Homo sapiens: one gene and its partners. The protein of the gene in region 3 interacts with the protein of the main gene of each other region in a biochemical or structural test. Each region holds a gene or a part of one and is shown on either strand. Other genes may lie near its edges.

Region 1 (7,071 bases), on a different chromosome or scaffold from region 3:
CCGTGGTGAAGCCTATTGGGGGGTGGATTGGGATGGGGCGGGGGTCAGCCAGGCGGAGACCCCAGAGACGGGGCTGATCTCCTAGGCGGGGGATGCCCTCCTCAGATGGCCCTGTCCTCCTCCCACGGTATCCTTGGTAGCCTGGGGCCAACTGCTCTGTTGGGGCTGGTAGACACAGCCCCTCCCTGAGCCTGGGGCCTGGCTTGTGTGGTGCCCGCTTCTCAGCCTTGGTACCTACAGAACTCATTCTCCATGGCCGGGAGACCTCTCCCAGGATGACGAGACACTGACTCCTAGCCACTTGCAGGGTTGACCCTCAGCAGAGACGGCTGTGTCCCCTTCCCTCCAGTGCCCCGCGGTCTCAACCCAGTTAACCGGTGAGTCTGACTGAAGGCAGCTTTCTCTGCTACCCGTGCAGGGTGCGTGCTGGTAAAGCCCGGCCCGTGTACTCCACCTGCCCCAGGAGCTGGAGACAAGACCTTGTGGCTGCGCAGCGGAAACCTTGCCTTGTGACCCCTGGAACTGGCTTTCTTGACTACTCCTTCCCCAGAGCAGCCAAGTTCCACTCCCGCTTTCCCCACACATTACCAGGAGGTTCAACCTCTCTGGCAGATCATCTCTTCCAACCAGGACTTCTTAGAGTCTAATGATGTTCATTCAGGTGTCCCCCCGCTGCTCCCTTGACCTCTTGTAGGAATCTAGACGCCACGAGCTCTTGGCTACAGCACCCTTAACCCGTATCCGTGGCAAGGCGTCTGGCCAGGCGCCCACCCTCTGCCCCTGGCCCTCCCGGCAGCCCTCGGCATGTACCTTTGTTGCAGAGCTCACAGACATGGTGAGGACCCTGGCTGTGCACCTTCATGTGGTCCGAAATATAAGCCGAGCTCAGCATCTTGCCACACACGTGACATGGCACTTTCTCCTCGTGTCGTACTGTGTGCGCCCGCAGCCGATCCTTCGTGGCGAAAGCTGCCTCACATTTCTGAGGAGGGGGGAGGGGCGTGGGGGGTGTCACAGGAGAGTTAAAGCTTGGTGGGCTGGGGAGGGGGGAGCAAGAGATTAAAGGAATCAGAGCCTTGGGGATCTTTGATCTGTAGGAAATGGGAGTGACATGATGAGGCCTTGAAGAAGGGATGAGAAAATGGAGCAAAAAGGCAAAAAGAAGAGAGAGAAAAAGGGGGTCTGAGAGACTGACTCAGACAGCTACCATGAGGATCAAAATCATGAAAACCAAGACAGGAGGAGGCGGGCTTCCTACCTCACATTTGAAGGGCCGTTCTGTTGAGTGCACTTGTCTGACGTGACTGTTGAGGTGATCCGGCCTGGGGACACGTTGGGGTTGGGGTTAGGGCGGAGGTGGTGCGCCCCAAATCCACCAAACCGCACCACAGGCCTTTCCGAGGATCCCTGCGCCTCCTCCCGGAGCCCAGGCCGTCACAGCGACACTTAAGCAGGAAATCCCTCCCCTGGAGCCCAGCAGCCGCTGCCGCCGCCGCCGCCTCCTCCCACGCGAAGCTTCCGTCAACCCCAAGGCCCACCTCCTCGACAAAGGACCACCCCTTGCTCCCTGGTAACCGGGAGAGGCTTCCTCCCTCCGCCCTGGGAGTGGCTCCCCTTCCCCAGCCTCAGCAGCCGCCTCCCTCCCCGCCAGCCACGGCCAGGCCACCTCCGTCGCGTCCCTCCCTCCCCACGGCCTAGCGGGCGGCCGAGGCCCCGTGCACACCGGGAGAAGCTCTTGCCACAGTGGGAGCAGTTGTAGGGCTTGTGCACAGCGCCGTCATGTGAGCGCACGTGGTAGCTCATGCGGTCCTTGCGCTTGAAGCGCTGCTGGCACACCGGGCACTGGTAGGGCTTCTCGTCCGAGTGCGACAGCTTGTGTCGGTTCAGGTGGTAGACGTCGCGGAAGGCCTTGCCACACATCTCGCAGGCATGGTTCTTCCGGATGCGCTTCCCCGAGGCGGTCGTGGTCACCACGCCACCGGCGGCCACTGCGGCAGCGCCGCCGCCGGCACCCGCCTCTCCCCCTCCCCCGCCGGCTCCGCTCAGCTGGGGCACGCTCAGGAGGCTCAGGGGCACCATGGTCGGCATCTTCATAGCACCCGAGGGGACCCGGCCGGCCTTGGCTCCCGTGTGGATGGCTTCGTGCCTCCGGAGATTGTAGCCGTTCTTGAACTCCTTGGCGCACAGAGCGCAGATGTAGGGCCCCTTGCTCTTTGTCTTCTTCTCCAAGGCAGACGCGACCGGGGCCACGGCGACCGTCGAGGTTGGGGCTACGACGGCGGTGGCCGCCGCCGCGGCGATAGTGGCGGCGGAGGCGGGGGGCGCGGCCTCGGCCGCGGGCGCCGACACTGGCGGGGGTGGCGGAGGGGGCGCCGGAGGCTGCTTCAGGGCCGCTGTGTCCACCGTAGAGGCGGCGGCAGGGGCCGGGGGCGCGGCAGCGACGGCGGCAGCAGCGGCGGCAGCGGCCGCAGCAGCCGCGGCGGACTCCTGGGCGGCGGCGAGCACCGGGAGCAAGTCCACCTGGAGGGGCTCGGCCGCCGGGGCCTGGGGCGTGGGCGGGGGCGCCGGCGCGGCCTGCGGAGACAAGGCGCCGAGTGGGCCGCGGGTGCGGGCGGGCGTCCCCCCCCAGCCCGGGCCGCCGCGGCCGGCCCTACTCACCTGGAATGGACTCTGGGCGCAGCCCTGGGAGGCAAAGAAGCGGGACTGGAGCTCAGCCCCGACCTGCAGGGGGTTCTGGGCGTGACCCTGAGGTGGCGGGAAGGAGTTCATGAGGCCGCCCACCCCCCGGGAGTCCAGGCCCAGCACGGGGAAGGGGGGGGCCAGCAGCGTGCAAGGAAACACCGGGAACATGGCCTCGGCCGCAGCGGGGCCCCCGGGGCTCAGCGGGGGCCGGGGGCGCGGGCCGCGCGGGGCCCGGGCTCGGGGCGCCGCCCCCGGCCGGCCGGGCTGGGCCGCGCCGAACGCATGGCCCGCGGGCCGCCCCGCCGCCCGCGCACCCCGGCCGGCGGGAGGGAGGAAAAGAGGGCGCCTTGCGGGCCGCGGAGCGCCGCGGCGACGGCGGCGGCGACGCCCCCTGGGTGGGGGCGGGAGGCCCCGCGGGGCCGGGGCCGGGGGCGGGGGCCCGGGCGGCGGCGGCGGCGGCGGCGGCGGTTGGAGCCTGGCGGGGCGGGGTGGGGGGAGCGAGGGAGCAGCCTCGGCCCCCGCCGCGCGCGCGCCCAGCCGGCGCCTCGGGGAGGGCGGGGGAGGGCGCGAGGGAGGGAGGGGGACAGCTGCGCGCGCACCGGGCGCGCGGAGGGGGGGTGGGACGGGAGGGAGGGCGGGCAGGAGGGGGTGTGGGCAGGGGGGTGGGGGCGGGGGGAGGGAGTTGTTACCTGGAAGATGAAGCTGCTCCAGTTGCTGGGATCCATGGCGGAGGGAGGGAGGGAGGTGGCTCGCGCTCACCCTGGGGCGGGAGGAGGAGGCGGCGGCGGTGGGGGAGGGGGAACCCGGGAGGAGGCGCGCGGGGCGGGCAGGAGGGGGGAGGTGGAGGGTGGGGGAAGCGGAGCACACTACGCGCGGGGAGGGCGGGCGGGGGGCGCGAGGACACACAAGAGGCTGGAGCGGGCGCGAGCGCTAGCGCGAGCGCGCGCGTGGCCAGCGGGAGGGGCAGGCGCGAGAGGGACTCTGGCGGGAGGAGGGACGGGGGAGCCACCCAGCAGCCCGAGTCGCCCCGAGCGCGAGACCCCTGAGACGGCTGCTGATTGGCTGACGATGGCGCAGGTGGTGGGCGCGCGGGAGACAGGGCGGCTTCTCTCCTCTTCCCCCCGCCAACGATTCCACTCCCCCTCCCTCCGCCAGCGGCCGTTATTTCGCGCGCACGCGCACAAGGCCGCCGTCGTTGCCGAGCGGGAGAATGGGGGAGCGCGCGCGCCGGGGGCACGGACGGGGCGGGGCTAATCCCTGAGCGCGCGCCCGCCTAACGGTCGCAGGCCTCATGCTTCGGCTTCCGCTTTTTGCGTCCTGCAGGCCACCGTCCTCCCCGCCCCACCCCAGCGGTGTATTTACAATCCTGCGCTGAGTCGTTCCCCGAAGATGGCGCCCAGTGGAGTCGCCTGCCTTGCTCGCGGCCCACCCCGAGGCGGTCACACCCCGGTCCCGCCCCCGCAGCCCCAAAAATCAGGCGGAAGCACCGGAGCAAAAACTGTATTTACACAACACGGGGTTATACAAAAATTTGAAAAGGCGGAGTGAGGAGACGACGGTCAGGAGGCGCCACAGCGCTGGCCGGCGGCGAGACCCAGGATGTTTGCCTGCAACACAGGAGGGAGGGAGACAGCGACGTTAGAGAGGGGCGCGGGGCGCAGGACAGGCAGAGGAGGGGCAGGGCCGTGACTTCACCTTCAGGAAGGACTCCATCTGTTTCCCCGTTATGCCCTCCACGCGTTCCAGGTCCTCCACCTGGCGGGACAGGATCGATAGGGGACAGGGTCTCGGGGGTACCCGGTCTCCCCCGCCCCCGCCCTCCCCCAGTCCAGTGGGCTGCTACCTGGCTGAAGGGGCCGTGGAGCTCCCGCCAGCCCACGATTAGCTGGGCCTTCTTCGGGCCAATGCGCTGAAGACTGCGGAGATCTCGGGCTGAGCCTTCGTTCAGCAGATCCAGTATTTTTTGGCGCCCATGAGCCAGTAGCTCCGGGCTGATCTGTAGCTCCCAGCAGTCCTCAGCCTTCTCCTCAGGCTCTAGGGCATCCAGGGACTCCAGCTGGGAGGCAAAGGGAGATGAGTGACACGCAGGGCAGCCAAGTGCTTTGGGCTCCTCTGCCAAGACTAGGAGCCCAGCACCAGCTACCTCCTGCGCTCCAGCCTCTTCCTCTCTTGTCAAGTGTGTCCAAAATCCCGCCCTCAGGTCACTCTCTGGGTTAATTCTTATTATGCAACTAGTGAAAGAGAGGTACTACTCAGTACCCAGTGGTAATATTAGCACCCTTCTCATGGAGTTGCTGTGGAGATCAAGTGAGTTAATGAATGTAAAGCACAAAATAAGCTCTTAAATCTGGTCCCTCATCTCTAAAAGGGAAAGAATAAGCTGTCTTTCAAAAAGTACATGGGAGAAAGTAATATGAATAAATGATACCTCCCCCAACCATCTCAGTTTTTGGGTAGTTCTAGTGGTGTTCGATTCTGGGTATGTGCATATGTGTGGTTTCTTGCTTGACTGCTTAGGTCATAGTTCCCTAAGTTTTCCCTCTTAAGCTTGTAGAGGGTAGAAGCCAGGCTACACAGTGGAACATCCGCTCTGCGAGGTACATCCACATCACTGCCTTCCACCCTAAATGCCCTGCAAGGAACCATCCATCACCACATTCCAGGGGTAAGCAAGTTGAGGTCTGTTAGTAGCTGGCGGCCATCATCCAGTTCGTTTAACCCCAAGGCCAACGCTCCTCCCCCTAGAGCCTACTCCCCCTTACTTCTGGGCTCCAGGTGTAGCCTAAGCCCCCAGCTACTTTCACCTTTCTCTTCCGGCCTTTATTCTTCAGGATGTGGATCTCGGCATTTGGGGATGCTGCCTGCTCCTGAACTGAAAGTAGGAATCGAGAATTGGAGTCAGGGCAAAGGGTACTTTTCACCCTCCCTGGTAGCCCTTCGATTCTTCCATTTCTGATTCCCCAGCTCCCCTCCATCCAGAGTTAACCTGTTGTGTTTCCACATGACCTTTTTTATACCCGCATTTAAAGGAATTTCAGTCAGTCTTGCATTATCTTCAATCCTCTACTCGTTTGTCCATCCCACTGTCCTAAACACCCGAGGGCAGAGCACCCCCAGCACTGCCTCAGAGCCTCCTCACCCCTCCCTGGGACTGGTATGTGGTGGGAGAATATGAATGACATGGAGACAGCTGCTCCTAACACTTCCTCCCTTATAGGATCTCAGCTGCCTTGGCCCCCCAGCCCCTGGAGTCAAACTTACTTAGCTGTAGGGGCATCACCACAGCCTTTTTCAGGGGCTTTGCCCCTGTGACTGTGCGATGTGAAAGGGGCCGGAGCATTGTGGGACAATGGTTCTCCTTTTCCTCAGCCTTCTGGGCCAACATCTTGGCCTCCAGTTCTTTTTGCTTCGTCTTAAGCCTCTGTTGGAAAGGATCAGGGAGATGTGATCCAGACCCAACTCCAGGGCAGCCTGAAGGGAGTGGGTTACCAGGGTGAGTATGCAAGGCTCTGAGCCCCCAGAGGGCAGGGCTAGGACCAGTGGGAGGTTACCAGGAGACAGGTGGAGCCTAACATAATTAAGGGCTTTCTGTGATTAGGGGGCTACCCAGAGGTGGAACAAGCCTCTGCAAATATTGAAGGGAAAGGCTTTTCAAGCACAGTCCTCAATTAATTGAGCTGGGCTTTAGGAAATGTAATGTTTAACATTTGTTGCTTTTACTTTGAACTTTTTCTTCTCACCCTCACATCTGGTCTCAATTGTCTGTCAAAGTTCAGCCATGTTAAGGACATTCAAGCAGAAGCTGGAGAACTTCCGGTATTGGGAGAAAACTGGACTCTAGTCCAGCCTGAGTGTCCTTCCCTGTCTGAAGATCCAAGGATTGCTTCTCAAGGCCAATAGGAATCCAGCTCCCACATCCCTAAAACACGTACCTCAATCTCTAGGTCCTTCTCTTCCACTGTCTTCATTAGCACCATCCGCTCTCGCTTTGGGGTACTCAACAGAGGGGCCCCCTGGCTCCCCTGGGAGGCAAGCAGACGGTCCAAGCTGAGGAGGCGCTCCAGCATGGCCGGGTCCATGCTGCTTAGCTTCTGTAGGGGGCTGAGCAGAAAAAGAAGTTGCTCCCCACCTACCTCCTCCCTCATCACCACCTACAGCAGCAGGACTCCCCTCACCACACCTTAACTTGGTATATCCTGTAGCTCCAGAACCTAATGTTAACTTGCTAGGCATCCAGTTTCTCTGGGTGCAGTGTCTTCATCAGGTGAAGTGACTGCTCGGGGATGCCAGGAAATCAGGCGAACACTTGAGTGCCAGGTATGAGAGACCTAAGACACTGCCCTGCCCTGGAGGCACTGTCTACTGAGGAAATCAAGAGACCATAATAAG
Region 2 (7,034 bases), on a different chromosome or scaffold from region 3:
GCAGCTGACAGAATGTCTGTAGGTCATTAGACAATGAAAAAAGAAAGAAGAGAGGGAAGGAGTAAAACAAGCAGAGAATAGGGATTATGGACAGTCAAAATCCCAGTTCTGCTACCTGCAAGCAGTGTTGTCCTGGCCAAATGGCTTAACCTCTTTGAAAATATTCATTACTTTTCCCTTTTCTTCCCCATAATCTTGCCAGTTCTGTCTGTATTCAGATGTCTCCTAACTCCAAAGTCTGGCTCTTTTCACACCATAGGAAGTGAGCTGGTAACATGAATGAAGATGAAAGACTAATTGTTTCCTCAGTCTCCATTACTGCACAATTTACAGCACAATTGTACTGTTATCAAGTGAACTTTGGAAACCTGTAGCACAGAGCAAGAGCCGCATACTCCCGGGGACCCAGACTTCCAAGAGTCCTGCAGAGGCAGAAGGGAGGGAGATGAATGAGCTTCTATCTAGGCGAGTCATGTCTACCCGCATCTCTCTGAGGAGGAAAGACTTTACTTCTCAGGATCAACGAGAAGAGATATGAGCTTCCCCCAACTTTTCTTAAGATACATTCCCCCTCCTTCCTGATCCTCCCACCAAGGGTGGCCCCTGGATCACAGTTTGGAAGTCACTGCCCTAAGGATTTCACCAAACAGGCAGTGTGGTAAAGAAGTTTCTAACAGAGGGTGAAGTGCTGTCTCTGGAGGATAAGATACAACCTGCACCCACAGGATGATTCTCATTCTTGGTTCTGGTCTCTGCTTGGGAACCAGCAGGAGAAGAACATGTGGGTTGGCGAGTGGGGGCACTGCAGCTGACACAAAGTAAACCAGCCCTGTTCCAGTCCACTAGGGTTGATTTTTCTTTTTTTCATTGAGACATGATCTTACTCTGTTGCCTGGGCTGGAGTACAGTGGCATGATTATGGCTCACTGCACCTTCAAACTCCTGGGCTCAAGCTATTCTTCCACCTTAGCCTCCCAAATAGCTACAATTGCAGGTGTGCACCACTGGATCCAGCTAATTTTTTTAATTTTTTGAGGAGACAGTGTCTCAATATGTTGCCCAGGCTCATCTCAAACTCCTGGTCTCTAGTGATCCTCCCACCTTGACTTCCCAAAGTGTTGGGATTACTGGTGTGAGCCACTGCACCTGGCCTACGGTTGTTTTTTCTATGTGTATTTTAATTATGTCTCATTGAGAATCATCAAGAATAAAAATAACTTGAAAAATTGGCAAGTTTTCCTATTGCAAGTAAAAAACTCTCATTTTTTAAGGAAAATGAGAGTTTTTTACTTGCCAGAGGAAGTCACTACCAGGAATTTTAATGGTTAAAAAAATTATTTTCTTTTTGCGAAATATTCATGGTTCTTCAACACTCTCTAGACACAACAGCAAGGCTCCCTGGCCCCAGTACTGCAAAACAAACCAAAAAAAAAGTACAGGTCCTTAGTCAGCCCTCAAACACCTCAAGAAGAGGTATATAATTCCATCATGCATCATACCTCTGTGCCTGTTACCTTCACAAAAGGCAACAAAGAACTATAGTCATTCTTCCCTCTATTCTAGTCCCTCAGGCAGGGAATAGGTTGGGTTTTACATCCATGTGCAGTATTATAATTTTATGCGGAAGCAGAGCAGACAAGAGATTGTCAGGTCTGAAATAAAGCAAAATTCTATATGCCTTAACAGTGGGCCCCCTAAATACACAGTCAATATTGTCCTCATATTAAGGTCATTTCTTTCACACAGACATTGAAGGTACTAATCTACTCTGAATGTCAGCTACATTCTTGCAAAAAAAAAAAAAAAAAAAAAGGAAAGGACATTGAATGAGAAAATGCAAGAAGTGTATGTTGCATAGAGCCTAAATCTTAACTGAAGTCCTTCTGTTTTGAGGTACTTGAATCACATTATGTACACCATTCAATACGAAACTCCTAAGTAAAATAACAGGATACCATTTTCAAAATCTTAAAGCAACAAACTACTGATGACTAGAATTAGAAAAGCATGCTTCCAGAAAGGTGACTAAATACACCCCCCCAACACAAAGGGGCAACGGTCAAAGACAAGACTGGAATTGGGCCTTGCGAGCTCTGCCTGGCAACCTTGGCTGTGGAGGCCACAGTGGACAGAGTTACCCACTCTCTTCTGGGCTTGTTCCCACCATCTGTGGGGTGGGTGTATAGGGCTGGGGCTAAGCCAGCTTCAGAAGCCCCCCAACCACCACCACACCATCAAGTCTCTCAAGTGGGACTGCTGTGCTGTGGCACGCACACCCACACACAAGTTGCCAACAGTTTGGAAGTTAGCCCCAGTTTCCAAATATGTCAACCCAAAAGCCATTCAGGTAAATATAAGTGGGAGCCACTACAAAGTGGGACTTTATCAGGCAGATACAGAGAACCAAAAAATGAAGTTGCTGAAAGCTGCTGTGGAGATTTAAGTCTTTTGTTTTTAACGGAGGAAGATAATGAGGCCCAGGAACACAGCTTCCTAGAGTAAGACAGTGTTCCGTCCTGGCCTCCAGGATGTTCAACACCTATCCCAAGCTTCTGAGCATTCTGTCCTCACTGGCTTCTCTCAGTGCTATTTCCAAATAATCTAGATTGCAAGTTATCACAGGCCACATTCCTGAAAAAACACAGAGCAATCCTGCTGACCCACTTCAGGGAAGCCCTTTCATAACAAAGTTACCCAAATCTTCTGGAGGGGTTTAATGAGCCCAGGTTATATATATTTAGTGAGTTTCAAACACTCGCCAGGCACTTTGAAACACAGTTCCTGAATGTAGGTGTTAACTGTAAGGCTGTGAAGGGCAATGATCAAAGACAAAAGCACTTGCTTTCATGATTTAAATAAGACATCCTAACCAGATTTTCTAAATCACTATATACTTCAATGGATACCAAGCACTGAGGTGGGTCCCCTAGGGCAGGGGTCCCCACCTGCTGGCTGCGGAGGGGTCAGTGGCCCATTAGGAACCAGGCCGCACAGCAGGAGGTGAGCAGTAGGCGAGCATTCCCGCCTGAGCTCCACCTCCTGTCAGATTAGCAGCAGCATTAGTTTATCAGAGAAGCCGGAACCCTGTTGTAAACTGAGTATGCAAGGGATGTAGGTTGCCAGCTCCTTAGGACAATCTAATGCCTGATGATCTGAGGTGGAACAGTTTCATCCTGAAACCATCCTCTACCTCCTTCTATGGAAAAACTGTCTTCCACAAAACTAGTCCCTGGTGCTAAAAAGGTTGTGGACTGCTGCCCTAGGGCACTGGCTCTCAAACCTGACTGCTCGTTAGAATCCCCTCAGAATCTTTAAAAAATAGTGATGCCTGGGCCCCACCCCCAGAGATTTTGATTTCATGAGGGATATGGCCTGGGCATTAGTTTTTTAAATACTGATGGTGAGTCTAATATACAACAGTTTGAGAACCACTGCTGTAAGAAACAAACAGAAACATAAAAAGTGGAAACAACTCAAATGATCATCAACTGGATAAATAAAATGTGGTATAGCCATACAATGGAATAGTATGCAGCCATAAAAAGGAATGACGCTATTGATATACGTTGCAACATTTTTAAACCTTGAAAACATATTGCTGTGAAAGAAGCCAGCAACAGAAGGATAAATACTGTATGATTCCATTTACATGCTATTCCATTTACATGATATGTCCAGAATAGGCAAATCCATAGGTACAGAAAATAACTGAGTAGTTACCAGGGGCCAGGAGAGTTGAGGGGAAATGGGAAGTGACTGCTAATGGATATGGGGTTTCTTTTGAGGGTGTTGAAAATTGATTACAGTGATGGTTGCATAACTCTATGAATAAACTACTAAATTCATAGGGTTGCATAACCCTGAATTAGATTAAATGGGTAAATTGTAAGGTACGTAAATTGTATCTTACTTTAAAATACATATATATCTATAAATTCTATCTACTATAGAGGAAAAAAAAACAGATACATAAGTAAGACAAGTATCAACAGAGATTTAAAATGCCATTAGAGAGGATCACCTAAGTAATACAGAAGGTAAACACTATAAACTCAGAGGAGGCATCAAAGCCTAAGTGATCCATATTTTTCTTTTCTTACTCATTTTTCTTCTCTGATTTGAAAAAGCAATAGAGTTCAGAGCTTGTCAGTGTACAGCTGATAATACAGGCCCTAAAGTCTCAGTTCTCACCTTATTTGGAATGGCTATTTAGCATTGTCTTAGAATTAAAAACAAATATTCAGAATACAGGCTGTTGATGGACTGTAATGACTCTCAAGAGTCAATTATCAACAGAGCCTTTGAAAGATGGACTTGGAGGTCAGGCGCAGTGGCTCACGCCTATAATCCCAGCACTTTCGGAGACCAAGGTGGGCACATCACCTGAGGTCGGGATCAGCCTGGCCAACATAGTGAAACTCCATCTCTACTAAAAATACAAAAATTAACCGGGCGTGGCGGCACACACTTGTAATCCCAGCTACTTGGGAGGCTGAGGCAGGAGAATCGCTTGAACTCGGGAGGTGGAGGGTGCAGTGAGCCCAGACTGTACCAATGCACTCCAGCCTGGGTGACCGACTGAGACTCTGTCTCAAAAAAAAAAGACGAACTTGGTGCTGTAAGTCCTACTTATGCCCTGGACTTGTCTTTACTAGTACCAGCAGTTTGGACCAAATAAACTTACATGCTCAAATACACAAAAAGACTTTTAAATACCAGGATTTGCAACACACAGGTATTATAGTACATATGCCGTAAAAACGAATGATTAAACGTGCCTCCCCTACTCAAAGTTCTTAATATACTTAATAATCATAGTTAAGAGTTATTTATTATGGCAGAAACTGACACACAGAAGGCTCAAACTTTAGGTAGCACAGGATTTTGTTTAACAGTCTTGTTTTCATGTCTAGGGTATAGTCTGGTACAAGAAATCCATCTAGGCCAGGCGCGGTGGCTTAAGCTTGTAATCCCAGCACTTTGGGAGGCTGAGGCAGGCGGATCATGAGGTCAGGAGATCGAGATCATCCTGGCTAACACAGTGAAACCCCATCTCTACTAAAAATACAAAAAATTAGCCAGGCGTGGTGGCGGGTGCCTGTAGTACCAGCTACTCGGGAGGCTGGGGCAGGAGAATGGCGTGAACCCGGGAGGTGGAGCTTGCAGTGAGCGGAGATCATGCCACTGCACTCCAGCCTGGGCGACAGAGCAAGACTGCGTCTCAAAAAAAAAAGCCATCTGTATTTCTCCAAGTTTCTGAATGTTAATATTTAATATTATACACTTGAACATATTTTTGCTTTCATTTACAGAAAACATACCATTAGCAATTGAATAAATCTTGGCCTATACCTTAAAGCCCTTTTAATAAATGTTTGTTGGCGCTTATTTAAAAGCAGGTAGCAGTGAAATTTCAATAGCTCCTAGAAATTAGATGATCAAAGAATAAACTCTATTCTCTATTTGTGGCAAACTTATAATGAATATACATTTCTACAGTCAGAGATGAAGACAAGCAGGTTAAAAATGACATCTAGTAAACTTGTCCTCCTCTACCCTGCTGTGCAACATATTTCAGTCAACTTTCAGAAAGTGGCTGGACCAAGCATTTAAATGCCCTGAGGTTGACCTGGACCAACTTTTAGGCAAATCATCCATCAGATCCTATAAGTCCTGCAGCACACTTAATTCAGACAAATAAGACAATAATTCCAAAAACAACTTAACAATAAGGACTAAGAAAGTGTTTAATTTTGAGATGTACTATTCTCAAAGACCCAAGTAAGCTTCAACTAGATAAGAGTTGAGCCCTTATGCTTGCTATAGTTCAGAAGTGCCAAAACATGAGATTAGGGTTGAATTTGCGCCATCAGCTTTCTGCTAGCTGTTTTCAACTCAAATTTTCCCCATTCTGCTCTCTTTCCTTCAGCCTGGTTTAACCCTGTCTGTCACACTCTTCACCATATTCTTACTACCAAACTTATTTTTGAGCACTACTTCAAAACAAAAAGAGCCAATGGAACAGAAGAAATGTACCAAGTAGCAAGGCAAACAAAGGCAAAGACTCCAGTAGCTAAGAGATTTAATTAAGAAAAAAGGCAGTTTCTGAAAAATGTGAGGCAGAATCTTGGACATTGCCAAACATCAGAAATTTTTAAAACTATTATTATATTAAGAAACAGACTGGCGCAGTGGCTCACACCTGTAATCCCAACACTTTGGGAGGCCGAGGCGGGTGGATCACCTGAGGTCAGGAGTTCGAGACCAGCCCAGCCTGGCCAACATGGTAAAACCCCATCTCTACTAAAAATACAAAAATTAGCCGGGCAGTGGGTGCCTATAATCCCAGCTACTCGGGAGGCTGAAGCAGGAGAATCACTTGAACCCGGGAAGTAGAGGCTGCAGTGAGCCAAGATCAGGCCACTGCATTCCAGCCTGGGCAACAGAACAAGACTTCATCTCAAAAAAAAAAAAAAACAAAAAACAAAAAACAGTCCTGCCTTTCTAAATTGAATCCACCGAGGCCTCTGTGTCTTCCTTAAAAGGACCACAGTGGGTACCATTGATGGATTGTATTCACTCTCCCTGTATTTAACAAGGTCCACCTCCCCACGTCACATACAGTGATTAAATGTCTTGCTAAATGGAAAAGCTGCAGACATTAATCTTTTATATTCCGGCCTCTCCTTCCCCCAGAATAGGCAAATCTCAACTTACCCACTTTTTAAAGTGTGAGCTTTTCTTCCTATTTAGAGTTTAAGGAGTTTTGGTACAGTCTGGAAGTGGTGATTAGAAGCCCCCAGGAGTCAAACCTGTTTGAATGCTACCTTGGCCACTCAATAGTATGGTCACCTTAGCAGGTCCTGGCCTTTCTCTATGCCTCTCTCCTAACCTTTCCTAACCTAATGCCTGATCTAACTATTATGCCTGGTTTTCCCAACCTGGAAACCAGGGATAATAATATTTCCCGTGAGGTTACTGTAAAATTATGCATGTGAAGCAATTATGTCTGGCACCCAGGGACGTGCCCAGTA
Region 3 (7,034 bases):
GAGGCAGGAGGATCACTTGAGGCCAGGAGTTCAAGGCCAGCCTGGGCAACATAGCAAGACCCCATCTCTACAAAAACGTTTTAAAAATTAGCCAGGTGTAGTGCCACATGGCTGTGGTCCCAGCTACTTGGGGGTCTGAGGCAGGAGGATTGCTTGAGGCCAGGAGTTTGAGGCTGCAGTAAGCTATAATTGTGCTGTTGCACTCGAGCCTGGATGACAGAACCAGACTCAATCTCTTAAAAAAAAAAATCTTAATTCAGTACTAATTCACTGAGGAGTCATGTATCTAGTAACCTTAGCATTGTTGCAAGTAAGAGAAAACCAGAAAGAAAGTGATAGAGGCTTCCAAAACACTGTCACATAAATGAGGTTTTTCAGTGAGAACATTTGGACACAGGATGGGGAACATCACACACCGGGGCCTGTCGTGGGGTTGGGGGAGGTTGGGGGATAGCATTAGGAGATATACCTAATGTAAATGTAGAGTTAATGGGTGCAGCACACCAACATGGCACATGTATACATATGTCACAAACCTGCACGTTGTGCGCACGTACCCTAGAACTAAAGTATAATTTAAAAAAATAATGAGGTTTTTTTTGGGGGGAGGGGTTGTTTTTGTTTTTTTGAAATGGAGTCTTGCTCTGTCACCAGGCTGGAGTGCAGTGGCGTATCTGGCCTCACTGCAACCTCCGCCTCCTGGGTTCAAGCAGTTCTCCTGCCTCAGCCTCCCGAGTAGCTGGGACTAAAAGTGCACACCACCATGCCCAGCTAATTTTTGTATTTTTTATAGAGACAGGGTTTCACTATGTTGGCCAGGGTGGTCTCAATCTCTTGACTTTGTGATCTGCCCGCCTCGGCCTCCCAAAGTGCTGGGATTACAGGTGTGACCACTGCGCCTGGCCTATAAATAAGCTATTAATTGAGTTTTTACAACTGGCTAATGAGCTTTAGTATTTAGAATCACCGAACTCTATAGAGATGAACTGCTCTTTTAAAAGATCATGTGTTTTTAAACTCAAGTTCAATGAGCCGATTATTTCACGAGGGTGCCAGGTGACATAGTGAAGACCACATATGCACAGAGTGATAGAACGCTGGCAGGTCCCAAGCCCTTTTCTGTGATTCTTCTCTTACCTCACCACTATCCTGCTCTTGACAGGATTACGGTTTCTTTGCACTCTCTTCTCTTTCTTCAGCCAGACCTTTCTGGAAGAAATCATTCATTTAAATTAAAAATAGATATATTTTTTATATCTATTTTCTCACACCAGTATCTTGCTCGCGACAGAATTATGATTTCTTTGCACTCTCTTCCCTTCAGCCAGACCTTTCTGGAAGAAATCATTCATTTAAATAAAAAATGGATATACCTTGCTAGGTCCTTGGGATATTTAGGTTCAAGTGAAGAAGGTAAAGAATAGGAAAATGCCTTTAAGTCCAGGTGCCATGGCTCACACCTGTGATGGGATGCCAAGGCAGGGGAGGATCAGTTGAGCCCAGGAGTTCAAGAAACAGCCTGGGCAACATGGCAAATCCCCATCTCTACAAAAAATGCAAAAATTAGCCAGACATATTGGTACACACCTGTATTCCCAGTTACTCAGGAGGCTGATGAGGGAGGATCGTTTGAGCCCAGGAGTTCAAGGCTGCAGTGAGCTGAGATGAACCCACTGTGCTCCAGCCTGGGTGACAGAGCAAGACACTGTCTCCAAAAAAAAAAAAAAAACCTTTAAGTCCCAAGAATATTCATCTAGACAGTAGTTCTGTTTTGGGAGGCTTGATTTTTTTTTTTTTTTTGTAATTATTATGGGAAATTTAAAACTACACAAATACAAAGAGAATAATGAACTCATTCAGCTTCAACAATTATCAAAGTTTATCACTTTTTTTTTTTTTTTGAGATGGAGTTTTGCTCTGTCACCCAGGCTAGAGTGCAGTGGCATGGTCTCAGCTCACTGCAACCTCCACCTCCCGGGTTCAATCAATTCTCTTGCCTCAGCCTCCCAAATAGCTGGGATTACAAGTACCCGCCACCACGCCGAGCTAATTTTTGTATTTTTAATAGAGACGGGGTTTTGCCATGTTGGCCAGGCTGATCTCGAACTCCTGACTTCAAGTGATCTGCCTGCCTCGGCCTCCCAAAGTGCTGGGATTACAGGTGTGAGTCACTGCTCCCAGCCAAATTTTATCACTCTTTGTTTAGTTGTCACTGACCACTTTTTTTAATCCTGCAGTGTTTTAAAATAAATCCCAGAAATCATGTTTCACCAGAAGTTCAATATGTATCTCTACGTAGACATTTTTCCATAACCATCATGTCATTATCACACTCAACAAATTAACCGTAATTAACAAATTAATAATCTGATTCTCAGTCCATATTCCACTTGCCCTGGTTGTCTTAGAGATACCTTTTTACTGTAAGCAGTAAACAAGGCCACAGATTGCCTTTGATCCTTTTTTTCAGTCTTTTATTCTGTTATATAAACTTCAAGGAGTCCAAGAACCATTGAAATAGATTACAAAAGTTTATATACATACTTTTTTCCTTGGTAGAGGATCATAGCATTTATCCATTTCTAATAGGGTTCTGTGACACAAAGTATGTTAGAAACCACTGATATGGGCTTTCTGGAATGATCAAATAGATTGTGATAATCCTTCATACACGAGTTTTCTTTCATTTTATTTTTTTATGTGTGTGACAGAGTCTTGCTCTGTCAGCCAGGCTGGAGTGCAGTGGCACCATCTCAGCTCGCTGCAAACTCTGCCTCCCAGGTTGAAGCAATTCTCCTGCTTCAGTCTCCCAAGTAGCTGGGACTACAGGCTCGTACCACCATGACTGGCTAATTTTTGTATTTTTAGTAGAGATGGGGTTTCACCTTGTTGGGCTGGTGTTGAACTCCTGGCCTCAAGTGATCTGCCTGCCTCAGCCTCCCAAAGTGCTGGGATTACAGGCATGAGCCACCACACTCACCCAAATTTTATCACATTTGTTTCAGTTGTCACTGACCACTTTTTTTTTTTTTTTTTTTGAGATGGAGTCTCACTCTGTCACCCAGGCTGGAGTGCAGTGGTACGATCTCAGTTCACTGCAGCCTCCAACTCCCAGGTTCCAGCGATTCTCCTGCCTCAGCCTCCTGAGTAGGGATCACAGTTGCACGCCACCATGCCTGGCTAATTTTTGTATTTTTAATAGAGGCGGGGTTTCACCATGTTGGCTAGGCTGGTCTTGAACTCCTTGTCCTCAAGTGATCCGCCCACCTTGGCATCCCAAAGTGCTGGGATTACAGGCATAAGCCACTACACCCATCCAAATTTTATCACTCTTGTTTCAGTTGTCACTGACAATTTTTTTTTTTTTTTTTTTTTTTGTTGACACGGAGTCTCACTCTGTCGCCCAGGCTGGAGTGCAGTGGCGTGACCTCAGCTCACTGCGACCTCCGCCTCCTGGGTTCAAGCAATTCTCCTGCCTCAGCCTCCTGAGTAGCTGAGATCACAGGTGTGCACCACCACACCCAGATAATTTTTGTATTTTTAGTAGAGATCGGGTTTCACCATGTTAGCCAGGCTGGTCTCAAACTCCTGACCTCAGGTGATGCACCCACCTCGGCCCCTCAAAGTGCTGGGATTACAGGCATGAGCCACCGCACCAGCCTATAGTATTAATGTTTATCTTGTAGCTGACTATGTTACTGAATCACAGTTTTTTGTTTTTTTTTTAATTTTTGGACACAGAGCCTCACTCTGTCACCCAGGCTGGAGTGCAGTGGCATGAGCCACCGCACCAGGTCCCCCCCCCCCTTTTTTTTTTTATCCTGCAGTGTTTTAAAACAAATTTCCTAAATCATATTTCACCAAAAATGTTCACAAAGTTTTCTGAAATGTCTGAAGTTCAGGCATTCCTTCTGTGTTTTAGGTCAGCCAGGCATATAGGATTATATGGTACCTTATACTCAATAAGACCTTTGTCTTTTTTTTTTTTTTAAATGAAAAAATGAAACATAACTTGCTGGAAATTACTTGTTTATTTTCACTAAACTTGACATATTAAAGTGCTAATACTCTGGAAATAACGTAAATTATCGTTACATGGTTCTTTTTAGCCAAAAATAATATGGATGAAAATATGGATGAGTCAGATAAAAGAAAATGTTCACGAAGTCCAAAAAAAATAAAAATAGAGCCTGATTCTGAAAAAGATGAGGTAAAAGGTTCAGATGCTGCAAAAGGAGCAGACCAAAATGAAATGGATATCTCAAAGATTACTGAGAAGAAGGACCAAGGTAAGGAGAGTCAGCTGTGGAGGGCAGCCTGGGGGTGATAAGAATGCACTGGATCAGGGTCCCACCACAGGAAAGGTACTGCGTTGTGTTTTCTTGATAACAGCTTTATCAAAACATAATTGATATCCCATACAATTCACCCAATTAAAGTGTAAATTCAGTGGCTTTTAGTATATTCACAAAGTTCAACCATTATTACATCAATCTTAGAACATTTTCATAACCTTGAAAAGAAGCCTCATTCATACCCATTAGCAGTTACTTCCCAACCCCTCCCGAAAGTGCCACCAGCTTAGTGGTCTACTTTCTGTCTCTCTGGATTTGCCTATTTTGGACAGTCCATAGAAATGGAATCAGACAATATGTGGTCCTTTGTGGCTGGCTTCATCCACTTAGCATGGTTTTAAGGTTCATCCATGTTGTAGCATTTATCAGTACTTTCTTTTTGTTTCTGAATAATACTCTGTATGGATATGCCACATTTTGTTATCCATTCATCAGTTGATGGACATTGGGCTGTTTCCTCTTTTGGCTATACGAATAATGCTGCTATGAACATTCATGCAGAAGTTTTTTGTGGCCATGCGTTTTCACTTCTCTTGGCGATATACCTAGGAATGGAATTACTGGATCATATGGTAACTCTGTTTAACCTTTTGAGGAACTACATTGTCTTTTGTAACAAGTCATTTTTAAAAAAAAACTAGATAAGCTAGATAATGCATGTGGCTAGAGATACTTTAAAAAAATATTTTTGGCTGGGCGTGGTGGCTCATGCCTGTAATCTCAGCACTTTGGGAGGCTGAGGTGGGCGGATCACCTGAAGTCAGGAGTTCAAGACCAGCCTGGCCAACATTGCGAAACCCTGTCTCTACTGAAAATTCAAAAATAAGCCAGGCATGGTGGCACATGCCTATAATCCCAGCTACTTGGGAGGCTGAAGCATGAGAATTGCTTGAACCCAGGAGGCGGAGGTTGCAGTGAACTGAGATCATGCCACTGCACTCCAGCCTGGGCAACAGAGTGAGACTCCATCTCAAAAAAAAAAATATATATATATAAATTCCTCCTTTCAGAGTAAAAATTACATTTATATAAATGTCTTTGTTTCACAGATGTGAAGGAGCTCTTAGATTCTGACAGTGATAAACCCTGCAAGGAAGAACCAATGGAAGTAGACGATGACATGAAAACAGAGTCACATGTAAATTGTCAGGAGAGTTCTCAAGTAGATGTGGTCAATGTTAGTGAGGGTTTTCATCTAAGGACTAGTTACAAAAAGAAAACAAAATCATCCAAACTAGATGGACTTCTTGAAAGGAGAATTAAACAGTTTACACTGGAAGAAAAACAGCGACTCGAAAAAATCAAGTTGGAGGGTGGAATTAAGGGTATAGGAAAGACTTCTACAAATTCTTCAAAAAATCTCTCTGAATCACCAGTAATAACGAAAGCAAAAGAAGGGTGTCAGAGTGACTCGATGAGACAAGAACAGAGCCCAAATGCAAATAATGATCAACCTGAGGACTTGATTCAGGGATGTTCAGAAAGTGATTCCTCAGTTCTTAGAATGAGTGATCCTAGTCATACCACAAACAAACTTTATCCAAAAGATCGAGTGTTAGATGATGTCTCCATTCGGAGCCCAGAAACAAAATGTCCGAAACAAAATTCCATTGAAAATGACATAGAAGAAAAAGTCTCTGACCTTGCCAGTAGAGGCCAGGAACCCAGTAAGAGTAAAACAAAAGGAAATGATTTTTTCATCGATGACTCTAAACTAGCCAGTGCAGATGATATTGGTACTTTGATCTGTAAGAACAAAAAACCGCTCATACAGGAGGAAAGTGACACCATTGTTTCTTCTTCCAAGAGTGCTTTACATTCATCAGTGCCTAAAAGTACCAATGACAGAGATGCCACACCTCTGTCAAGAGCAATGGACTTTGAAGGAAAACTGGGATGTGACTCTGAATCTAATAGCACTTTGGAAAATAGTTCTGATACCGTGTCTATTCAGGATAGCAGTGAAGAAGATATGATTGTTCAGAATAGCAATGAAAGCATTTCTGAACAGTTCAGAACTCGAGAACAAGATGTTGAAGTCTTGGAGCCGTTAAAGTGTGAGTTGGTTTCTGGTGAGTCCACTGGAAACTGTGAGGACAGGCTGCCGGTCAAGGGGACTGAAGCAAATGGTAAAAAACCAAGTCAGCAGAAGAAATTAGAGGAGAGACCAGTTAATAAATGTAGTGATCAAATAAAGCTAAAAAATACCACTGACAAAAAGAATAATGAAAATCGAGAGTCTGAAAAGAAAGGACAGAGAACAAGTACATTTCAAATAAATGGAAAAGATAATAAACCCAAAATATATTTGAAAGGTGAATGCTTGAAAGAAATTTCTGAGAGTAGAGTAGTAAGTGGTAATGTTGAACCAAAGGTTAATAATATAAATAAAATAATCCCTGAGAATGATATTAAATCATTGACTGTTAAAGAATCTGCTATAAGGCCATTCATTAATGGTGATGTCATCATGGAAGATTTTAATGAAAGAAACAGCTCCGAAACAAAATCGCATTTGCTGAGTTCTTCAGATGCTGAAGGTAACTACCGAGATAGCCTTGAGACCCTGCCATCAACCAAAGAGTCTGACAGTACACAGACGACCACACCCTCAGCATCTTGTCCAGAAAGCAATTCAGTTAATCAGGTAGAAGATATGGAAATAGAAACCTCAGAAGT
Region 4 (7,000 bases), on a different chromosome or scaffold from region 3:
AAAAAATTAAATAGTTATCTGTCTGAATGGTTTTAAGAAATTATTACATAAATATAAAAACACCAGAATACTAGAGTATACATTACTTCTGCATTAAAAAAAAATCCATTGCAGAATCACTGAGAATTTCTCAATCCAGTTTACATGAGGCAAGTTTCTTTTCTATGATAGCTGTGTTTTTGAAAAGTTGCCTGTTTAGCCCATCATCTCCCCACCATCACCTCCCCATGGGAGATGCTTCATCATCATTTTGGATCCATGTCCTCTTGCGTACGTTTTTCTGCTTTCCCTACCCACTTGAGAAGCGGCTGATGCTCCTTAAACTGTGATGAAAATACATTGTGAAGACGGTTACCTGAAAGGGGCCTACAAGGGAACATCTTTGCCACACAAAGACAGTACAGCTTCGCTGTGTTGAGGTTTGGTTCTGGTAAAATGGGGACACGTTTATTTTGGGGGAACTCCCAACTCTAGCCAAGTCACACAGTAAGAAACAGGGTCCAGGGCTAAACGGGTGCACTCTCTTGCTGCTGGTATCCCCCTTGGTGAACAGTCCTACAAGCAGCCTGCAGATTCTTCTCCCTACATCTCCTGTAAGGACGAAGGAGTGGTGTAACCTGAGCTCCGGCCCTGTGGAGACCCTCATGAGGCCTGAGGCTAAGAATGAAACAGATCTTTGCTTCTTCCCCAGATTACTTACATACGTGCATGCCATGCACACACTACTTCAAACCTTTCTGTAGTCTTGAGTAAAAGCATTTAGCCTGGAATATGTCCAAACTCTAGGAAGCCAAGGGGAGATGGAGAAAAATAAACAAACTAAGCACATGATATGTGCTATAGCTCACTTCAGTATATTAACGATGGTTTAAAAAAATAATCACCATGGTCAATAAAAAAAAAAAAATACAACACAGACAACATAAGGACAATGGAGACGTCTGCCAGCAGCCTTGCCCTCATGTGTGCTCTTCCTAAGAGTCAAAGTCCCTGCTCCTGACTCCTCTAGGCTTGTCTCAAAATGTCAGGTCTACAGCCTGCCAGGAAGGTGGCCAACTGAGATGATGTTCCAGCACAGGCCTGTAATCCAAACCGGCTGGGGTAGCTACCTACGTATGTGCTGGAAGCATCTAAGTTACTAAATTGGGAAGAAGCGAGGTGGGGAGGGGAGAGAGGAAAGGGAATAAAAGTTGGCTCCTTGGAAGGTGCTGAAGACAAGGATCTGTGTCCCAGTGCTAGCTGCACTTGGGTCAGTCTCAGCACAAGCTGCAAGGTGAAGATGTCATGGCGGGGAGCCCAGGGCAGGGGCAACACACGCGGTCGTGTTGACTAGGTGAACGCCACTTAAAACTGCTATCCAGTCACCAGCACTCCTCTAGAACTGCCCTGGTTTCCTCTTGCCCTTTTCAACTGTCCTTTAAAAAAGTGTTTTAATATACAAATGCCATTCATACAACAGGATTTTAAAACTAAGAAAACTAGCTTGTGGCTTCAAGGAAGGACACTAATGTTACATACGCCCAAAGCACCTATGTAGCACTCTAAGGTGGGAATGGCACCATTTCCTAACCTCTTAGGTATGATCAAATTTATTTTCAGTGATGCCACAGGTGGGTTTGCCTACAATCCCACACATCCTCCTCTGGTGGTCTAGTCAATAAAGAAAAAGGGCCAAGGAAGTATCCTTTGGAAAAACACAAAACTCAAACTTCATGCTCCTAGAAGTAGCCTTCAGGTCTGAGCAATGAGGGTTCTAAGACACCATCCAAATGCAGCCAAACGTGTCATTTCATCACATTCAAAGTTCATAACCTGCCAAAGTATAGGCTTTTTTTTTCCCCCTTCACCTGGAGTAAGACACGACTTCCATAGATCACTGGATCACCAGAATCAGGCTGTGCCTGAAGCTAGTTCCCAAGCACCCAGAGGGCTGTGTGCCACAGGAAGCCCTCATAGGATCGTGCAGCAGGTGGATCATGCAGGCCCTCGGAAACTGCTGCCCATGGCTTTTAGGAGAGGAACCATGACTGCTCTAGCAGAAGCCAAAATGGAATATTTGGTTCCTGGGTCTCAGAGCTGGCTGGGAACATGAACACATGTACAGGAGGTTCAGGGGGCTTCCTGTGTAAGAAACAGGCCATAGATCATTTCACACCAGGCACATACTTCAGACTCACAGCATTTGGCCCTCTCAGAGGAAGTGAGGGGTTTTGTATTGTCTCTGGGTTCTGAGTCAACCCTCCTTCGAGAAGACTCACACAAGTCTGTCAAGGTGCTCCTTCCGTCTCTTCCTGTGTCCTCAGGAGGCTTGGGGAGCAGCTGTCCTACCTGGAAACCTCATGGCTAGAACTTCAGAGGCACAGGACCCTGCAGATGAGGCATCAGGAAGCCTCTCCATCTCCCTCTAACATCAGAAATCTCATCACATTTGAGCTGTATGACTTGCCAAAAGTATATACACTTCCTTCCCTTCACCTGGAATAAAGCAGGACTTCCATAGGAAATCCCTTGATTTTTCCTGCTATAAATTCATGCAAAAACGTGGGATAGGTCATTTTATACAAAAACAGCAGCAAAGAATAAAGTACCAATTGAAGGTGGCAGTTCTGTCTACTGTGTTCTGCAAAAGGCTGGGAAAAGAAGAGGACTCTTTTTTCTTTTTTCCAGTTGAAATAATTTAGACTAGTTTTCTCCCTAATTGCTGCTGGGAGCAGTACTTGTTACACAATACAACTGCTATAGTTGTCACCGGTGATCCTCTACCGGGAGCTAGATCATCTTATATCCCAGGGGGAAGATGACAGACCTCTTTGTACCAAGCCTGCAATTTTCAAAGGTGTAAAAATATTTTAATAGCCCTTTTCATTTGCCTATGTTGGCCTGAGATGTTTCCCTTCTGGTGAATTTGCTTCTGTAAATTTCAGCTTGCAGAAGTGCTGGCAGGTATCTCTTCAACAAAACCTGGAAAAGCTTCACCTCAGGAGAGAGAAGGGAGAGAAGCAGTTGCTGGGTCTCACTCAGGTTTCCCAGTCAATGTGCCAGCCCAGGATTTTTAAAGAAAATATATAAACCAAACATTTAAAAGAGCATATGATAAAGTTGATTTAATGAATGCAACTGACTACATAAACCAATATAGCCGTATGCATCAGAATCTGGAGCAAGCTCTTACAGATGACTGGAGACGCACCCAGTGTGGTGCTGCCTGAGACCAAATGCCATCCCACGACAAGGGCCTCCTGCTTCATGAGAACACTTACCGTCATTCGAATCTCTTTGAGATTAATGTGATAATAGACACTATACATTGCATATGCACTGGGCCTCAGCAGATCCTTCCAACTTTTCAAAGTGAAAAAGGACAAACGTAAGTGAGTTTTTAAAGAGGTGGCGCTCATCGATTTTTCCCGCTGTCCTGTGTGCAGGTTCTGCTGAACACGCACCTCCCAATCAGTATGTTCTGAGAGGGGAGGGAGACAGACAAAACTCCCTCCCTCCCCATCCCAAGTCTATCCAGCTCACAAGGGGCAAGGTCTGCTGGAGTGGTGGGGCGGGGCGGGGCGGGGCTGGGCTGGGAATGTTCACTGGAAGAGGCACTGTCACAAGCGTCAGAGAGCTGGGCATGAGGTCTGCATGGCCCTGCGGGCTCTTCCTACCTAGAACGCCCTTCCAAGGTGAACTCCACACTGCAGTCCTAGACAGAGGGGTGTTTCTGGTTGGACTGTGACATCCCAGAAAGCTGTCACTCAAAAAAAGAGTCTGGGGGGAGGGGGCCGGTGGTGTAATACTACCTGTTCTGCTCACTTAAGCCACCAGAGCAGACGCCATTTCTTGCCCTTCAAAGTGGGGCCAAAGGGTAAATGTGTTTGGCAGACACAGCTGTTCATAACATCCACCTCTGGGTTTGCTCGTGTGTTTCAGAAAACAGGTGGGTGCACCCCTTCAGTTGAGGGAGAAAGATTTCTTCTTCCTTGACAACAATGGGTTGAGTAGAGTTCCAATTTTCTCCACCTCCTGCATGGCCATTTTCCCCAAGCCTGCCCTCCCCTACCATACTTGATGTCTCTAAGACACACTGGAACAGCGGATGCTTGGGGAGCCCATCTGGGTGAGGACCTTGTCAAGCCACTGCAAAGGCCCATTCAGGTGCAGCTCAATCCAGCAGGGGGTACTGGTCACAGTCTGTCTCCTGTAAGAAATAGGGAAAGGGGTGGGGTGGGGGACTTAAAAAATCTCCAGGGGGTTACACAAGTCAGAAAGCTTTTTCTGCTTTGGTGACAGTCATCTTCCCAAAGATGCTGTTAGACGCTGTCCTAGAAGCGGTACCAGTAACTTGCTGAAACTACCCGGCCAAACTCCTCTACCCAGGGAGGACTTTGAGTAAATTAAGTTCTCTTGAGGGGGAAGGAAGTCGACTTTAAAGAGTTAAACATGTAAAGTCAATGGCAAAGAGTTAAATATGTAAAGTCAATTGCAGGGTACCCCAGAGGCCCACCAGTTACTGTAACAGGCCCCCTAATAGAGGAGACCTCCATCCTGAGCAAAGGGCTTCCTGGCTCCCATCTGTACCAAACGGGCACGTGCCGCTCCCCTATCTCGAAATCTGGGCCCAGCCCCAGCAGGCGACGATGACGTGTGTCTGTCTGATTGAGGGGTGTTTTTTACAAAGCGCCAACAGTGTCCGCATGCCTTCGGTTCCCAATGTGCTGATATAATTCTCATCTACGGCCTTATTTTGGAAAATCTTACAAGCAGAACGAGCCATGGAACAATTACTGGAAAAAAACAAGGCACACCACACGTTTCTTTTCCCCAAAGCACTTTGTCTAAATTCAGGCTGGTTGATGACGCAGCTTGCAGGCAGGCTCCCAAAGGCCTCCACTGAGCAAAGGCTATCTGCTGAGGCTGGAGTCGCTGGTGCCAGCTGGAGGTGAGAGGTGTGGGCCCTGGGCCCTGCTTTCAGCCACCTCACAGAGAGAAGAGCTGAAACCTTACTCTCCTTGGCCCAAGAGGCAGGAGGACGACAAGGCTGTTCTGGGAAGGGGCCGCGCCCGCCCGTCAGGCTGCTGTGCAGTGCTGCCAGGCAGCGGTGACGCGGTGGGCCACAGAGGACTGGGTGTGCTGGCAGGACATCCCGCGTGGTGATAGTGTCCCCAGGGAAAGGCTCTGCCACCAAAGAGCCTCTTCCTAGCACTTGGAGCGGGAGAGCTGCAATGCCACACCAGGAACAGTGTTGCTGTCTTGAAGGCACCACCCTCCTTGCTTGGCCTCTACTTTGCTTGTGTAGCAGGGAGGTTGAGAAATGGGCCTGCAGACAGACCCTGGGGTGTCTGCACGAGCGAGGGTACCTGAGTGTGGCCCTCCAGACTACAGTCTGGTATAAGAAGAGCAAATGGACATCCCCTTACTCTTTTCCACTGCAGTCCATCTTTAAATATTTCCCTTCTTCACTAAAAAAAGATTAATTTTCTAACCTTTCACTCCTGTTCCCTAAATGAGCTAAGCCAGGGCTAAAAGATTGCTTAAAACATTTCTCTGGCTAGACCTTTGGGCCTGGGCTGATCTCTTCAGGCCATAACATAGTTGTAAGTTCTTTTGAGGTCTGACCACTTTGATTGCTCCACTGGTCACTCCTGGATTTCAGAGACACCCAAGAAACCAAGGGGCTGTGTTCCCTGACACCCTGGGGCAGACACAGAAGAACAGCAGCTAAAATACGGTAAGTGGAAGAGGAGGATTTTACAGGATGAAATCCTCTAATGAGAATCTGACTTTCCATAAGTCATGCTCATCTGGATTTCATTACAAACGGTGGCCCAAGGCCAATATTGAAATGGGTTTGGCCTGAGTGCAGCATGACTGCAAAACAAAATGGATTCCAAACATCTGGAAAAATGAAGAGAAAGGGAGAGTAGCTTGCAAGGCGCTGGCTCTAGCTGACATGTGGGCACCTCTGCATCTGCCGCAGGAGCTGGCGGCTGGCAGGGGGGAGTGTGGAGCAGAAGGCGGGGGCACACAGCCCTGCCTCTCCGCAAACTTTGGTCCGTGAGTGGAAAGAAAAGGGACTGGATTCTCTAAACCCAAAGCAGGATGGCCTGAGAGATTCAACCAAGCAGACCAGGTAGACCTGACTATATCAGGGCCATGTTTAAACCAGTATCTAGGGCCGGGCATGGTGGTTCACGCCTGTAATCCCAGCACTTTGGGAGGCTGAGGCAGGTGGGTCACCTGAGCTCAGGAGTTCGAGACCACCCTGGGCAACATGGTGAAACCCCCTCTCTACTAAAATACAAAAAATTAGCCAGGCGTGGTAGCACGCACCTGTAGTCCCAGCTACTTGGGAGGCTGAGGCACGTCCTGGAGGCAGAGATTGCAGTAAGCCAAGATGGTGCCACTCACTTCAGCTTGGATGACAGAGTGAGACTCCATCTCAAAAAAAAAAAAAAAAAAAAAGAAAAAGAAAAAGAAACCAGTATGTAGGACTCTAAAAAAGTCATTTCTCAGCGAGAAAATTTTGTTCCTTTATAACTACCCAAATCTCCTCCTCCCTTCCCGGACTCTCAGTTTTAATATCCTGGGCTCCTCAGCATCACCAGGGTCCCTGAGTCAGAAATGGAGCAACAGAGGAGGAGAGGAACAATGAGCTGAAGACCTAACTTCCTGAAGAGGGTCATCCTAAAGCCATCTGCCTAAAATGAGACTAAGGAAGAAGCCAAGAGGGCAGAGTTCTAGACACAGCTCTTCTACCAGTGTGACTGCAGGCAAGTCACTCTCCCTCCCTGGGCCTTAGTTCTCTCATCTGTACGGATGATGCTGGCATCCCCACCCAGGGCTGGGATGAGGATAAGATGGAGCGTGTGTTTACAGTGCCTACAGCTGTTCGGTGCCAGCAAACATCGTTCTGCAATTCCTCATCATCTGCTGTTGGCCCGGCCCCTCCTGCCTGCCAGGCCTTGGCCTCTCTCTGATCTTTGGTCTTTCTGCTCTTGACGCTAGGGCT

Evidence for each region.
Region 1: the proteins of BPTF (region 3) and MAZ form a complex in vitro, tested with the Homo sapiens proteins (one study listed by BioGRID).
Region 2: the proteins of BPTF (region 3) and NFE2L2 form a complex in vitro, tested with the Homo sapiens proteins (one study listed by BioGRID).
Region 4: the proteins of BPTF (region 3) and SMAD3 form a complex in vitro, tested with the Homo sapiens proteins (one study listed by BioGRID).

The regions. Positions count from the first base shown.
Region 1 is NC_000016.10:29,802,481-29,809,551, reverse strand, and holds the start of MAZ (myc-associated zinc finger protein), read right to left. Parts: upstream 3,024-7,071; 5' UTR 2,851-3,023; coding exon 2,659-2,850; intron 2,575-2,658; coding exon 1,724-2,574; intron 1,323-1,723; coding exon 1,259-1,322; intron 1,122-1,258; coding exon of another isoform or gene 1,023-1,121; exon of another isoform or gene 983-1,022; coding exon 811-982; exon of another isoform or gene 419-810; intron 13-418; coding exon of another isoform or gene 1-12. Other genes in the region: kinesin-like protein KIF22, read right to left, coding at 4,242-4,289, 4,378-4,437, 4,526-4,738, 5,487-5,554, 5,944-6,103, 6,615-6,783. UniProt on the Homo sapiens protein: Transcriptional regulator, potentially with dual roles in transcription initiation and termination.
Region 2 is NC_000002.12:177,254,709-177,261,742, forward strand, and holds part of NFE2L2 (nuclear factor erythroid 2-related factor 2), read right to left. Parts: intron 1,303-7,034; exon of another isoform or gene 1,237-1,302; intron 1-1,236.
Region 3 is NC_000017.11:67,905,473-67,912,506, forward strand, and holds part of BPTF (nucleosome-remodeling factor subunit BPTF), read left to right. Parts: intron 1-4,109; coding exon 4,110-4,289; intron 4,290-5,404; coding exon 5,405-7,034. UniProt on the Homo sapiens protein: Regulatory subunit of the ATP-dependent NURF-1 and NURF-5 ISWI chromatin remodeling complexes, which form ordered nucleosome arrays on chromatin and facilitate access to DNA during DNA-templated processes such as DNA replication, transcription, and repair.
Region 4 is NC_000015.10:67,187,602-67,194,601, reverse strand, and holds part of SMAD3 (mothers against decapentaplegic homolog 3), read right to left. Parts: intron 4,190-7,000; coding exon 4,066-4,189; 3' UTR 1-4,065. UniProt on the Homo sapiens protein: Receptor-regulated SMAD (R-SMAD) that is an intracellular signal transducer and transcriptional modulator activated by TGF-beta (transforming growth factor) and activin type 1 receptor kinases.